Linked DNA regions of Homo sapiens. The protein of the gene in region 3 purifies or fractionates together with the protein of the main gene of each other region. This does not show direct contact. Each region holds a gene or a part of one and is shown on either strand. Other genes may lie near its edges.

Region 1 (3,857 bases), on a different chromosome or scaffold from region 3:
AATGCTTCTAAATCACTTAAGTTTAACATACCAGCATCTTTGATTAACAGTGCATTCATATCTTCCACATTTGTGGGTCCTAAAAAATATATATATAAATAGGTATCAGTAAAAGCAAATAAAACTAGTTTTTTAAAAAATTTATATTTAAACACAATTTGTTAGTTTCCCAATTCAATTAAGTATAACACATTTCATGGTGTCAAAAATGGACACAAGTACAAAGGGAAAGTCTAAGTTTTATGATTATCATTAGAGAACACAGGATTAAAAACCATTATAGCATATTTGAAAAATGTTATGACAAGCAATATTCTAGAAAATATACACCACAAAATGCTAATGTGCTATATACCACAAAATTATTTTTTTTGAGACAAGGTCTTGCTTTGTCACCCAGGCTGGAGTACAGTGGAGTGAGGTTTTCTCAGTTCACTGCAGCCTCATCCTCCTGCGCTCAAATGATCCTCCAACCTCAGCCTTCTGAATAGCTAGGACTACAGGTACTAACCACCAGGCCCAGCTAATTTTCCTAATTTTTGTAGCGACAGGTTTTTGCCATGTTGTCCAGGCTGGTCTGGGACTCCTGGGCTCAAGTGATCTGCCCACCTCAGCCTCCCAAAGTGCTGGAATTACAGGCGTGAGTCACCATGCCTGGCCAACACTCATTCTGACAACATGCTCTTCTCTAGGATACACCACTACACCTGGCATTTTTACAAGGCTTTTATTTACTCATATCCCTATAGGTGAAAATCTCAGGTTCTGTCCTTAAGATCCTCTTTTCTTTTCCCAAGGCTCCTTACATACATGCACTCCGAAAGTATATCTCTATCTCCTACCACTTCTAATGAGGTAACTGTTTCCTTGTCATTAAGGCTCAAAAGTTTAGGATCATCTTTGATCACTTTTCCTTGCCTAGCACATTCAATCGGTTGCTAAAAGTCAATCAAGTAACAATAGTTACTGAATATGCCCAGCACTGGGAATAAAATATAAACAAAACAGACGTGATCAATGCCCCTAGGACTTACAGTCTAGCAGAAAAGACAGAAATCATAAATCAATGTTAGTTAATAGGCAGATAATTAGTTACTTGTGTACAAAGTGTAATGACCAAGTGTCAAAAATTTACATCATCATTTTCTCTCAAATCCATAATCAATTATTTCCATTCCCACTGCCACCATTCTAAGAGAGGCTAACACTATTTTAACCTTTTCTCACTATTTCTCACAACACGCTCCAGATAGACTTTCTGCAAGCAGTATGACTACTGTTTTGCTTTTGCTTCTATTGTATTTACTACAGGAAAATTTATCATCGTCCAAACTATAATTCAAGGCCTATCTCAAATGCCACCCCCTTGGAAGATAATAAGTTTTAAAATTGTTTTTCTCAAATTCATATTTATTATATGACCCAGGAAACAGTACAGTATGCATTGTAGGCACTCAGACTATTTCTTAACTAAACGTTAAAGAGATTAACTCAAAGTTAATCACAAAATATGCCTTACCTTGAAGTGTTTGCATCATTTCTAGAAGTACAGGAGTAAGAGTCTGATTATATTCATGGAATATATCTATAAATAATACTTCAGTGCATGGCTGGAGAGGGAAAAATACAAATTTCTCATCAAAACAGTTGCATACTATATTGACTAATTCTTTAATAAAGCAAATACTTAATCTTAAAATTCTAAAACTTTGAAAATGTTTCCAACTTTTGATTTGTTAAAAAAAAAAAGTAAGGTTACCATTTTTTTATAACCAACACAAAGGAAAACAAAATCGAATTATAATTAATAAAAGAAAGTTGATTTCATTTCAATTATTTGTCATTACGCATTCAAAAACTTAAAACTATGGCAAGCAAAGTGTACATTTTAAATTAATCATACCTTAAATTTAAAAAGCATTCTGTAGCCACTCATTTATAGCTCAGTACTATAAATGGCTGACTACCCAAGATTCTTTTTTTTTTGAGACACAGTCTCACTCTGTCACCAGGCTGGAGTGCAGTGGTGTGATTTCGGCTCACTGCAACCTCCACCTCCCAGGTTCAAGCGATTCCCCTGCTTCAGCCTCCCGAGTAGCTATTATGTATTTTCTTAGCAATGATATAATAAGCAAAAACAGGAACTCCAATTTGCCAAATAAAGTAGCCTTTCTCTTAACAAACACAAGCGGTAACAGAAATTAGCATTAGCTACATTTAAAAAAATGATTTGTTTGGTTCTTAAAAGTACTGAATCATTTCACATTGCATGCTGGTATCAAAACATCTCATGTACCCCATAAATATGTACACCTACTATGTACCCACAAAAAATTTTTTAAAATAATTTTTTATTTAAATTTTAAAAAGGAATTTAATCACTAGATCGTTCACAATATTTAAATTTTTTAATTAAATTTTTAAGGTATTGTGTGGTGTTTTAAAAGGAACATTATAAATATACACACTGAAATATGGTCAGAGGATGTGTCATCTCAGATAACCATCAACACTGGGAGATGTTTACAGGAAGCTAAAGTAGCCATGAGTTGATAACTAATAAACTAGCTTATCATGAAGGGCTCATTATATTATTCTATTTTTTAATATGTTTAAACTTCTCCATAAAAGAAACTTTTAAAAATTAAAGGAATGAAATTTTTTAAAGTTTTAAAATCACCAGTAATCTCTCTGGTTAACAACTGTATGTTTATGAATCTAAAAACATTAAAGATAACATTTTTAGAAGACAAATAGCTAATTATGTAAATTATGTAAGTGCAAATCTTAAAAAGAAGAGCTCAAACATCACATCTGGTAACGGCAAAACATTTGTCATATTAATAAATGCGTTGTAAAAGTATCCTATAACTGAAAGCAATGGGCTAGTCTCTGAGAATCACATGAAGTGGTAAGAGAAATAACATACCAAAAGAAACTTTACTAATGAAATATATAGAAGGAAAAAATTCTAGCTTAAGAATGGCAGCTTTCAGTTTGACAAACATTTTCTATTTGTGTAATGACAATTATTTCCCAAGCAATGTACTAAAAGATGAAGAAAAAATTTGTTTTCCGACCCCAAGTTAAACAAAAGAAAAGGCCAGGCACAGTGGCTCACGCCTGTAATCCCAGCACTTAGGGAGGCCGAGGCGGGTGGCTCACGAGGTCAGGAGATCGAGACCAACCTGGCTAACAAGATGAAACCCCGTCTCTACTAAATAAACAAAAAATTAGCTGGGCGTGGTGGCGGGCGCCTGTATTCCCAGCTACTCGGGAGGCTGAGGCAGGAGAATGGCATGAACCCAGGGGGCGGAGCTTGCAGTGAGCCGAGATGCACCAGTGCACTCCAGCCTGGGCAACAGAGTGAGATTCTGTCTCAAAAAAAAAAAAAAAGAAAAAGAAAAAAGAAAAAAAACTCAGATTAAACGTCATAATTTAATATGAATATAGTTCTTAGTTTCTTATAAACAGTTTCTTATCTGTCTGACTTAATGTTGGGAATCTTTAATTTTTTTTTTTTTTTTTTTAAGAGACGGGTTTTGCTTTGTAATCCAGGCTAGAACGCAGTGGCATCATCATGGCACACGGCAGCCTCAACCTCCTGGGCTCAAACAATCCTCCTGCCTCAGATTCCTGAAGAGTTGGGACTACAGGTATGCGCCACCACTCTGGTCTAATTTTTTTTTCCTTTTTTTACTTTTTGCAGAGACAGGGTCTCACTATGTTTACCAGGCCGGTCTTGAATTTCTGGCCTCAAGCGATCCTCCCACCTTGGCTTCCCAAAGTGCTAGGATTAAAGTGTGAGCCACCATGCCCAGCAAATGTCTGGAATCTTTAATAGAGTGTCATTCTCT
Region 2 (3,857 bases), on a different chromosome or scaffold from region 3:
AAGTGTGTGGTACATATTACCCATTCAACAAATATTACCTGCCATTTAGCCAATACTTACTGAGCTCTGACTATATGTCATTAGCCCTCGAAGCCTTTTTAGAGTAATGCAATGTATAGGTCAATGAATCTCTGATTAGGCACTGTGGCTTTCTTTTTTCTCTCTGTCTTTCTGAGTTTGTGTGCCTTCTCTGGGTGGTACATCCAAAGCAGGATTGTATGAGAATAACTGAAAACCCATCCTAACTTGATTGTCCTACCCTCAACACCTATCAGAAGAGGTAGCCTTTAAGACTTAGCCATAGTTTTTCCAGAATTGTTTTGTAAGCCAGCACAGAAAATGACTGATGTCAAAACTGCATTTTCTGAAAAGCAAGTACATTGTTGCAGTTGACCTAGATGTATATTCACTTTTGGCCCATCAATAAAATCATGAGGCAAAGCTGACGTGTGGTACAAATCTTGTGCGGATTCCAGTTAATGGACCACTGCATATATAAAACCTTTTCCCAAGAATTTTTGTGTTAGTATTTTGGTTAAATGTAGATCATTTTTGCCCATTCATTGACAGGTACAAAATCAAAAGTATAATTTCTTAATGAAATCTCCAGTGTAATCAAATGTAGAAATCCATGCTATTCTCTTGTAAAGACAAGACTTCTAAAGTGGTTCTATTGACTTTATGCATTTTGGTGGTCAGGTTTCGGTGGAACGGCATGTCTCGATTGGAGAAGGTGTATCTGAAGAACAGTGTCATGGAGCTGATTGCAAATGTAAGGAATGGGTGGTTGGGAGACATGTTTCCAAGGTAGTTTAGGCAAAGCGTGACTTCTTCAATAGGGAGTTTGTGTAAAAATTCACTGCTTCTAAATAGGTCAGACAGCACAAGAAATCATAATTTAGGCCAGGCACAGTGACTCACACCTGTAATTCTAGCGCTTTGGGAAGCCAAGGTAAGAGGATCACCTGCATCTAAGAATTCGAGAGCAGCTTGGGCAATGCAGTGAGACCCCATCTCTACCAAAAATGCAAAAATTAGCTGAGCGTGGTGGCGCATGCCTGTGGCCCAGCTACTCAGGAGGCTGAGGTGGGAGGATTTTCTGAGCCCAGGAGGTCCAGGCTGCAGTGAGCTGTGATGGTGCCATGGCACTCCAGCCTGTGCAACAGAGCAAGACCCTATCTCAAAAACAAAACAAAACAAAAGCAGAAAGCATAATTCAGCATATGTCTCTTACTAGGTTTAATTAATCATGCTTATGTATTGACTTCTATTTTTTAAATTATAAAGACAGGGCAGAGGGGATTAAATATTTTCAACAAATCAATAAGATTCTTAGATCTAAATTAGATTGAAACACTATTTTCTTTTATTCCAAACAACTACTATGTGATACTAATGATGAAAAACATGCAGAATTTTAAGTATGCAGAATGAATTTGTTTCAAGTATTAGAATATGACTTTTTTTTTTTTTTGAGACAGAGTCTCTGTTGCTCCGGCTGGATTGCATTAGCATGATCATAGCTCACTGCAGCCTCGAACTCCTGGGCTCAAGTGATCTTCTCGCCTTAGCCTCCCAAGTAGCTGGGATTATAGGCATGTGGTACCATGCCCAGCTAATTTTGTTTTTGGTTTTTAGAGAGACAGGGTCTCACTGTGTTTCCCAGGCTAGTCTGGTCTCAAACCCCTGGCCTCAAGCAATCCTCCCACCTTGGCTTTCCAAAATGCTGAGATTACAGGTGTGATGACTGGATGACTGTCTCTTTAAACACAAAACAGAATATGACTTTAAACATGTTCAAAATTGTAGCCTTTTTTCTTTCTTGGTTTTTTTTAAATAACAGACATGAGAGATGGGATCTTCTAATACTTCTGCGTCTTCTAGTGTTAGAACTATTGGTAAAATATTCATTTGCCCCTTCATACCCTTCCATTTTACCAGCTACTCACTATACTCCTTATTTCTATACTCTTCCTCCCTGGCCTTCTGCAAACTGAAACAATCAATATGAGAATCTTTTCATTTTGTAAAGAATAATGATGTCATCCTAGCTCTCGATATGACAGCCTTTTAGGTGATGCAACCCTCACTTAAGCTTTAAGCGGAAGAGTGATTAGCAAGAATGCAGGACAAGTGACTCAGGCTGAAGAACAGGTTCATTTGTTCTGTTTGGTTTAAAAGTAGGCCTGCTGATAAATTTTTTACAACTCTACAGCCCAGCTTTTTTCTGGAAGTCTGGAATCCAGTCTTGCATATCTCTTAATATCTCTTGTTCTTTTTCAGGGAACATTGAACATTTTGGAAGAGGAGAACCATATTAAAGATGCTCTGTCTCGAATTGTAGTGGAAATGATCAAGCGAGAGTGGCCACAGCATTGGCCTGACATGCTAATAGAATTGGACACTCTTTCCAAACAAGGGGTATGAAACACAGCTATATCAGTTTGGTATACTTTTCCTTGGAACAAACTTCAGGGTTTGTTGTTTGATTTTGTTTGTGGGTTTTTTTTTTTGGCAACAGAAAATAGCCTTTGGATATACATAAAATGAAAAGATATTTTAGTTTTTAACTAGCTTATTTCTATTGGTGTAGGAAACACAGACAGAATTGGTGATGTTTATCCTTTTGCGACTGGCAGAGGATGTAGTGACTTTTCAGACACTTCCCCCTCAAAGAAGAAGGGACATCCAGCAAACATTAACCCAGAACATGGAAAGGATCTTCAGTTTTCTGCTTAACACACTTCAAGAAAATGTAAACAAGTATCAGCAAGTGGTAAGGGATACCCCTACCTATAACATTTCTATTTTCCAATATGAGTGTTTTTGATTAATCTTACAGTAAGGAACTAGGGTGTCTAGGTCAGCAAAATGAAATCCTATTTTATAAGCAAAAAAATAAAAAACTAGGAAATGACAGAAAAACTGGAGCTCATTTTCTTTCTTTTTTTTTTTTTTTTTTTTTTGAGACGGAGGCTCGCTCTGTCACCTAGGCTGGAGTGCAGTGGTGTGATCCCGGCTCACTGCAACCTCTGCCTCCCAGGTTCAAGCGATTCTCCTGCCTCAACCTCCCAAGTAGCTGGGACTACAGGCGCCCGCCACCAGGCCCGGCTGATTTTTTGTATTTCTAGTAGAGACGGGGTTTCACTATGTTAGCCAGGAAGGTCTTGATCTCCTGACCTCATGATCCGCCCGCCTCCCAAAGTGCTGGGATTATAGGTGTGAGCCACGGCACCTGGCCTTTTTTAAAAAAAAAAAAAAAAAAAAAAAAAAAGATAGGGATCTCGGCTTACTGCAGCCTCCACCTCCTGGGATTACAGGCATGTGCCACCACACCTGGCTAATTTTTGTATTTTTAGTAGAGATGGAGTTTCGCTGTGTTAGCAAGGCTAGTCTCAAACTCCTGACCTCAGGTGGTCTACCCACCTTGCTCTCCCAAAGTGCTGAGATTATAGGTGTGAGCCACCGAGCCCAGCCCTAGGTGTTATTCTTAATTTTATTTTCAGAAGTTCTTTAGGAAAATACTAATTTTTTTTTTTTTTTTGGAGAGGGAGTCTCACTCTGTCACCCATGCTGGAGTGCAGTGGCACAATCTCGGCTCACTGCAACCTCCGCCTCCTGGGTTCAAGCGATTCTCCTGCCTCAGCCTCCCGGGTAGCTGAGATTACCGGTGCCTGCCACCATGCCCGTCTAATTTTTGTATTTTAGTAGAGATGGTGTTTCACCATGTTGGTCAGGCTGGTCTTGAACTCCTGACCTCAAATAATCCGCCTGCCTTGGTCTTCCAAAGTGCTGGGATGGTAGGCGTGAGCCACCGCGCCTGGCCTAATTTTGTATGCTTGTAAGTTAACATTATG
Region 3 (3,857 bases):
GTGGGTGGGGATGACAGTCCCCAATTCTGCTGCCACCCCACTGGCTGCAGAGACAGACTCTGAATCAGTTTTACTGCCCCATAGGCAACCGTGAGGCCATCTTCCCAGTTTGTCAAAACTCTGTCCCGGGTTCTCAGGGGTGACCTACCTTATTGGTTGGCTTCTTGGCCACCTTTTCTAAAAAAAAAAAAAAAAAAAAAAAGGATGGGGAGTTGGAGAGGCCAGATAAGAAACAGGTGGTCTCCCCTCCCTCCCCCAACACCTCCCCACCTGAGGACTCACTGATAAAGACCAGCACCAAGAGGATGGCAAACAGGATCCCGAAGATGATGGGGATCACCACCAGGGCTCTCAGCCGATCCTGGGGACCTGGAGAAATCAGGACTTCAGCATGCACCCCTCACCTGCAGTTTCTCCCTACCCTCAACCTGCTGTGACTTGTCAGACTCCAGAATCTTCCAATGTCAGAGCTCATCTACATCAGAAGGTTCAAACCGCGGTCCTTGGGGAAATGTGGCTGGCAGATGTCTTTAAAGGAGCCAGAACATTTTCTTAACGTTTGGAAATATTTGCCGACATTTTTAAACTGGGAGATCACATATTCAAACCTAGACATCTGATTTCTCTTACAAACTGGGAAGACTGGGTTCCAGTTGGCAGCCTCCCCACCTGGGAACCATCTAGAAGCGAGTGGTGGCAGTGGCTGTCACCACCTGCTCACCATGCTCCCCGCCACTCCCTGCTCTCTGCCCAATGCCGAGGTCTAGCATGATTCATGTCTGCATGTTGCTTTTGGTATAGAAGAGTGGAGGGGAAAGGTAAAGTATTTCTCATGCCGAATTTTTTTTTCAAAGTGGGAAAATAAAAGAAAGACCAAAAGGCAGGGCGGAGACTAGCGTGAGGCAAGGGATGAAATTGTTTCAGGACAAAATTGAAAAGGATGTCCAAAACACTCAGTCATCAAGGTAAACATTCTTTTAATGCCATATTTTGAAAATCATCAGGCGGACACCAAGTCAGCAAACTACGGCCTGCAGGCTGGCTGCCTATTCCTTTTACTGGAACCAGGGCCAGGATTAGGGTGAGGTGAGTGAGGCAGGGTCATGCAAACACAGGGTCGGATCCTGTTCTTTATTTAAAATGTTGCTATCTTGCTCATCATGGATTTCTTTGCATTAATTTTTATTTTTAAAAATATTGCATCAAAATGAATTTACCTTGATTACTACACTTTTATGGCACCTTCTTAAATATTGCGCCCGAGGGCAAGTGCCTTGCTCACCTCATTCTAGTCCCAGCCCTACAAAGAGGAAAGTACATTTTGAGAAAAAGCAAAGAGAATGTATTTTTCGTTTTTTTAAATTTTATTATTATTATACTTTAAGCTTTAGGGTACATGTGCATAATGTGCAGGTTTGTTACATATGTATACATGTACCATGTTGGTGTGCTGCACCCATTAACTGGTCATTTAGCGTTAGGTAAAGAGAATGTAATTTTCTTACCCCTGACCTTTTTCACTGATTTACATTATCTGATCTTTACTGTAGGCCAACCTTCTCACTCTAAAATCAAAACCTACTAAGGAAGTGCTGTTATCATCCCATTTTACAGATGAAGAAACTGAGGCTAAGAGAGGGGAAGTGATTTGCCCAGACTCCCAAGATAAGTGGCAGAGCTGTGATACCACACCCCCAAACTGCCTCCCCTCCCCTTTTTCCCATCCAGTGTTCCTGTGTGCCTCATCTCCCCCTTCAGTTCCCACCTTCCTAGGCTTTCTCCAGGGCCCATTGTCCAGGACTCACCACAGACAACATCAGTCTTGTTTGTGCCTGCCTGTTGCACAACCAGGTCTTTGGTCTCACAGCTATGCACAGACACGTGCACAAATGCACACACACAGAGAAAGAAAGAGATATTAAGTTTCCCCAAGCATAAGATTTCCAACTCTAGAGTGAGTCAGTCAACAATCAACAAATCCAGGTTCACTGAGCACACAACACGTGCAACGTCCTATGCTGGTTATTATAGGAACGACACAGACTCTTCTTACAGAACTTAAAAGTGCAGAGAAAAGATTCTTGCACATCTTGAAGGAGTAATAAATAGGGGAGTCTATAATGAGTGCCAAGCTTTGTGATCTAGGTAGGCTAAAGTGAGATGGGAATGGTTCAGAGGAGACAGAATCCACCAAGGCTGGAATGGAGAGATGATGAGTTCAGCTTAAGATAGGGTTACTCAACGTCAGCACCAGTGACACTTGGGCTGGATCATTATTTACTGGGGGTGTGGGGGTGGGGGTGGGCTGTCCTATGCATTGCAGATGTTCAGCAGCATCCCTGGCCTCTATCCGCCAGATCCCTGTAGCATCCCCCTCTCCGTTTGTGACGAATGAAATGTGTCCAGACATTGGCAAACGTTCCACAGGGAGCAAAACTGCCCCCTGTTGAGAACCTCTGGTTTAAGGTTCTTCCAGAAAGACTTCCCTGAGGACATATGACCTGAGTGGGCCCTAAAGGATGTAAAATTTGGATCAGCAGTGCAGTCCCGCTAAGTGGGACGATGTGATGTGGGGAAATAAGGCAGGTGGCATGCAGGATGGTGTTAGGAAACTATGGAAAATTGTGTCTTTAGAACCAGATCACTGCCAAGTGTGAAGTTTTCAACTGGATTCAGCTGGTCAGTCTCATCAGCATCCAACCAGGCGACTTCACTAGTGAGAAGATTCAGCTGCCCAGAGAGCTCAGAGGAGGAGAAATTACAGAAGAGTGGCCAGCCAGGAGACACAGCAAACATATAGATATGAGATGATGAAGACCTGGTCCAGGTGGCCCCAGGAGGAGTGGGGCGGAATGGACACAGGACATTGCAAAGGAAAAATCATCTAAGGTGGGAGAAAGAGAGAGAAGCTTTGAAGAAACCATGTACTTTAGTCTTTTTTTTTTTTTTTTTTTTTTTTTGAGACAGAGTCTTGCTCTTTCGCCAGACTGGCTGGAATGCAGTGGCGCGATCTCAGCTCACTGCAACCTCCACCTCCCAGGTTCAAGCAATTCTCCTGCCTCCGCCTCCTGAGTAGCTGGGACTACAGATGTGCGCCACCACGCCCAGCTAATTTTTGTATTTTTAGTAGAGACAGGGTTTTACCATATTAGCCAGGATGGTCTCGATCTCTTGACCTCATGATCTGCCCTCCTCGGCCTCCCAAAGTGCTGCAATTACAGGTGTGAGCCACCACGCCCGGCCTACTTTAGTCTTACATGAGTAGAGCATTCAGGAATTTACAATACACTTTACATGTTTTTAGCTCAAGCCTTGTGAAATGAAGGTCATTCCCATTTTTCAGATGAGGAGACTGAGGCTCAGTGAGGGTCACACACTTACTGAGCTGTAATCAGATACGTAAGCCAATGCACTGATTCCATTAATACTATACCACTGGTGGCCGGGCACGGTGGCTCACGCCTGTAATCCCAGCACTTTGGGAGGCCAAGGCAGACGGATCACGAGGTCAGGAGATCAAGACCATCCTGGCTAACACGGTGAAACGCCGTCTCTACTAAAAATACAAAAAAATTAGCCGGGTGTGGTGGCGGGCGCCTATAGTCCCAGCTACTCAGGAGGCTGAGGCAGGAGAATGGCGTGAACCTGGGAGGCAGAGCTTGCAGTGAGCCGAGATTGCGCCACTGCACTCCAGCCTGGGCGACAGAGTGAGACTCTGTCTCAAAAAAAAAAAAAAAAAAAAAAAAAAAAAAAAACTATACCAGTGGTGCCTCCAGTTATCAGTCAACATTTATCAGTAAAAATTTAAGCACCTACCATGCGTCAGGTACTGTTCCAGGTATAGGGGATGTATCAAT
Region 4 (3,857 bases), on a different chromosome or scaffold from region 3:
GGGAGGCCCTCGCTCCAGCCCAAGATGTCTTCTCTTGTCTCTGTCCCTAAACTCTTGCTTGGTCTTTGGTTCTCCCAGTCCTGCATGCAGCCACCACCAAGTGGTTCCTGTGTATGGCAGGATCAAGGAACGACAGGAAGGGGCCTAGGTTTGGGGGTGGAGCCAAGTGGGGGCAGGGGCGGGGCCTGACCTTGGAAGAAGGCGCTGAATTCCTGGGGCAAAGCAGCAGGAGGGAACTTGTATTTGCTCTTCTCCTTGGAGCTGATGACTTCCCTGGGGGCAGTGAGGCCAAGTACATCAGCCCGGCTCTCACCACTCCTGGCCGTCACCCCTCCTTGGGCCCAGCGCGGCCATCCTCTCCCCACCCTCCTCTGGGTTCCCTTCCTGTGGGCTGGGTCTCACCCACTGCGCTGGCGCCGCCAGGTTTGGTAAGGGTCAAAGAGGCCCTCGCAGAGAAGCAGAGCATGTAGGGCCACATTCTCCAACTGCGTGCCTCGGCCCTGGGGTGGTGGGCATCCTTTCAGCTGTAGGTGTGGGGAGAGAGGGTTAGCCCCGCCATGGCTACCGCCTGCCTCCCTGCATACACCCTCTGCCCCCCAAGGTAGAGGCCACTTCACCTCCGCCACCAACTTGGTCAACAGTGCCAGCACTCGGGGCACTAGCACTTGGCCCCGGCCTGCCTCTATGTTCTCCAGGTTCCTGGGGGAGTCAATGATGAGAGAGGTCACAATAATACACCATGCCCCTCCTTGTCCCCTCTCCCTCTGGCCCACAGTTCTAGGCCCCTGCTTGTAGAGTGGACAACAGAGACACCTGCAGAGAATGATGAAGAGCTTGAGCAGCAGGAGGGCTTGCTCCAGGTCAGCCTGGTGCAGCTGTTCGGCCAGCACATGCAGCTCATCCAGTGGTAGCAGCGGGACCTCTGCACCTGCCTCCTCTGGCCTGCAAGGAAAGGGGAGACACGGGTGCTGAGGACCCCTCAATCTCCCTGCTCTGTCCCTGCCCTCAGTGCAGATCCAGCCTCACCTTCGTGGCTCCAGAGAGGACAGTGAGATGCTCTTCTTGAAGGCACCTACAAAGGCCTTCAGCCACTGCTGCAGGTAACCCAGGTCCTTCTGTAGGCAGAACAGGGGAACAGTGGTGGGGGGCAGGAGGGATGCAGTAAACAGGGCAGGGACAAGGGGATGTAGACAGAGGCGAAGAATGAATGGAGGTGGACAGAGGGCATGGACAAGGGGTTAAAGGCAGAGTGGAGGGTGTGGAGAAGGGGAGTGGGGGACGGGGGAGGGAGGGCAGGACATTGGAAGGTCAGCATCAGAGAGTTAGGTACATACTGACCACTTTTCCAGGCACCCCACTGCTTCTCTCAGCCTCCCAGTTTCTGCTCCCACCTCCCTAATGCCTGCAGTCCTAGGCAGGTCTGACACAGCCAGGGGAGGGGCGTAAGTGGGGTGTGGCTGTGGCCCACACTGGTGCTAGGGCTGGAGAAGGTGTCCCACACAGCAGCCACCCCCTACCAAGAGCCTTGGGCTGGGTCCTCATCTGCCATCTTCACCCAGCCCAGCAGCCACCACCTTCAGTAGCCTTCTTTAACTGTGGATCCCAGGACACACGTGTACCATTAGACAGGCAGACCCAGACATGCGCACATCCTCATGTGCGGCCCTGCCTTGCCCCGGGAACCTCCACCCACCCTTGCTGGTTACCTGGACCCCAGGCCCCAGAGCTGGTTCCATGGGCAAGAGGGGCAGTGGCTAAGCCCAGGTCTAGGCGCTGCCAGGAAAACTTTGGTGTGAACGGGAAATGTCTCCTCCCGCCCCGGGGCTGGGGCAGGAAGCGCAGAGTCACGGTGGGGGAGGGGGACCGCTTCCTCCCGGCAGACCGCAGGGATGTGGGGGGGCCGGGGCACCCTGGGCCCCAGTGAGAGAGGCTGCAAGCGACCTGGCCTGCACAGAGGGTGGGACCTGTTACAGAGGGGTGGAGTCACCTGTCCTGGGTGGGGCTTGTGGGCCAAGACTAGTTTTACAAGCATGAGGTTGGCGCCTGGAAGAGCTCTTATCCAGGTGAGGGTTCTGATCCTGCTGCTGCAGTACCCTTCACTTAAGGCACCCACAGCTCCCTGACCTGCGCGCAAGGCCTCAGGCCACAGGGGTCGATGTAGAAGACTCAGCCATACCTTTGTCCCGCCCCGCCGCCCGCCATGTCCTGGCCACCTCATCTGAACTCTGCAGTTCTCTTCGCTCAGGAACACAGCTGATAAATCCTAGCCTAGCCCGTATCTGCTCTAATCTCTAAGCCCCTCCCAGGGGCCAGGGGTGGGTTGTGGCTTATACAGGAGCTCCTCCAGGCTGGCCCCATATGGAGCTCCTAACCAGCTGAGTCCAAAAGGCAGCCTTCTTTCCTAGAGTCAGAGAGGTGGACAGGGGGAGCTAGAGTGGAAAAGGATGAAGAGGCAAGGGACACATCACAGTCAGCACTCAGCAGGCCTCAGGCTGCTCCCCAGGGGCCATGGGCCTCATACCCAAGGACCTCCAGAACTATCTTTGGATGGATGGCTAATTTTTGCAGCCTATGGGCCCAGACCACGGGCAAGGCCTGAATGGCCCCAGGGCAAGAGGCCTGACTGCAGCAGACCTGAGCCAGATCCCCAAAAAACCTAGGCAGAGCAGCCGTCCACCCTGTGATTGGGGAACTCCCTGGTACAGTTTAGTGCAGATCTGAAGCCCAGACAACTCAGAGAGGTGCCAGGGCCACCATGGTGCAGACCCACACAACCATGACATTTTGTCTGTCAGTTACATTTATTGACCTCTCCACCCTCTCCTGCTGGCAGCCTCCTCCCGAACAATCAGCAAGGAGCCCAAAATACCCAGATCCTGAGACAGCAGAGGTGGCCAGGGGCCCTGGACCATTTCTTCTGAACCTCTCCCATTGCAGATGGGGAAACAGGAGGCCCCACAGGGGATGCCTTATCTACTACTTTGTCTTCAGTGTACCTTTGAGGATGCTAAAAGCCAGACCTTAGTTCTAGGCCAGGACCACTCATGATTGCTAGCAAGCCAGCCCATGAGGACCATGCGGGCCCCGATCCTTGCCTCAGTGGCCCCACAGAGACCCCTAGCTGCCTTCAAAAATGTCCCAATACTGTCTTCCTCTCTTCTGCCCCTCAGTCAAGCTAGTCACTCAAAATGTGAGTCTTCCTGCCAGCTGCAGCTCTACTGAGCACCTGAAAGCCCAAATTTGACCGTGTCTAACCCCTCCCCATAAAGGCTCAACTGCTGAGCAGCATTCCAGGCTGCTGGTCCAACCAGAACCTGCTTCTCCAGCTTCCACCTCTCCCCCTCTGTGGTTCACATCCTCCTATCCAGGCCTTTTCCCACCCTATGCCCCACTGCCTTGTGTGACTTGGGCTTTTGGTACTTGAGCAGGAACCTCCCACCCTCCTGGTGGCCATCACCTTGATCAGCCTTCCCAGCACAGGGGTGGGTCCCTCAATCTCTACATACTCCTAGAGTATGTAGATAGTACTTTCTGTCCCTAGAACCACACCCTTGGCCTGTCCAGTCCTGTAAACTTTCAGCAGATTGGGCTGAGCTGGGTTCAGGGCTGGGACAATCAAGACAGCCTTCAGGGGCTCTGAAAGGGGATGACGAGGTCTCCAAAGCACAGTATTAGGCAGGGGTGGGGTGGCTGCCTGTCCTGCCTCCCTGGGTCTCACTGTTTCTCCCTGGAAGACCTCAGGCCAACTCTGACCTAGGCCCCATGGCTTGAGACTGCAATGTGTCGGGGTACGGGAGTCCCTCAGGGAGCCAGGGTCAGAGGGCAGAGAATGGCAGGGGACGAGAGCATGGTGGCAG

The links.
Region 1: the proteins of CD40 (region 3) and IPO11 purify together in Homo sapiens (co-immunoprecipitation; 2 studies listed by BioGRID and IntAct, with this or other methods). This does not show direct contact.
Region 2: the proteins of CD40 (region 3) and XPO5 purify together in Homo sapiens (co-immunoprecipitation; 2 studies listed by BioGRID and IntAct, with this or other methods). This does not show direct contact.
Region 4: the proteins of CD40 (region 3) and NBEAL2 purify together in Homo sapiens (co-immunoprecipitation; 2 studies listed by BioGRID and IntAct, with this or other methods). This does not show direct contact.

The regions. Positions count from the first base shown.
Region 1 is NC_000005.10:62,485,524-62,489,380, reverse strand, and holds part of IPO11 (importin-11), read right to left. Parts: intron 1,611-3,857; coding exon 1,520-1,610; intron 80-1,519; coding exon 32-79; intron 1-31. UniProt on the Homo sapiens protein: Functions in nuclear protein import as nuclear transport receptor. Serves as receptor for nuclear localization signals (NLS) in cargo substrates.
Region 2 is NC_000006.12:43,569,421-43,573,277, reverse strand, and holds part of XPO5 (exportin-5), read left to right. Parts: intron 1-699; coding exon 700-772; intron 773-2,283; coding exon 2,284-2,421; intron 2,422-2,593; coding exon 2,594-2,776; intron 2,777-3,857. UniProt on the Homo sapiens protein: Mediates the nuclear export of proteins bearing a double-stranded RNA binding domain (dsRBD) and double-stranded RNAs (cargos). XPO5 in the nucleus binds cooperatively to the RNA and to the GTPase Ran in its active GTP-bound form.
Region 3 is NC_000020.11:46,124,650-46,128,506, reverse strand, and holds part of CD40 (tumor necrosis factor receptor superfamily member 5 isoform 1 precursor), read right to left. Parts: intron 1,868-3,857; coding exon 1,806-1,867; coding exon of another isoform or gene 1,766-1,805; exon of another isoform or gene 1,346-1,765; intron 529-1,345; exon of another isoform or gene 370-528; coding exon 283-369; coding exon of another isoform or gene 271-282; intron 178-270; coding exon 149-177; intron 1-148.
Region 4 is NC_000003.12:46,985,927-46,989,783, reverse strand, and holds part of NBEAL2 (neurobeachin-like protein 2), read right to left. Parts: intron 1,795-3,857; exon of another isoform or gene 1,737-1,794; coding exon of another isoform or gene 1,707-1,736; intron 1,423-1,706; exon of another isoform or gene 1,339-1,422; intron 1,116-1,338; coding exon 1,027-1,115; intron 943-1,026; coding exon 814-942; intron 700-813; coding exon 618-699; intron 525-617; coding exon 403-524; intron 274-402; coding exon 191-273; intron 116-190; exon of another isoform or gene 1-115. UniProt on the Homo sapiens protein: Probably involved in thrombopoiesis. Plays a role in the development or secretion of alpha-granules, that contain several growth factors important for platelet biogenesis.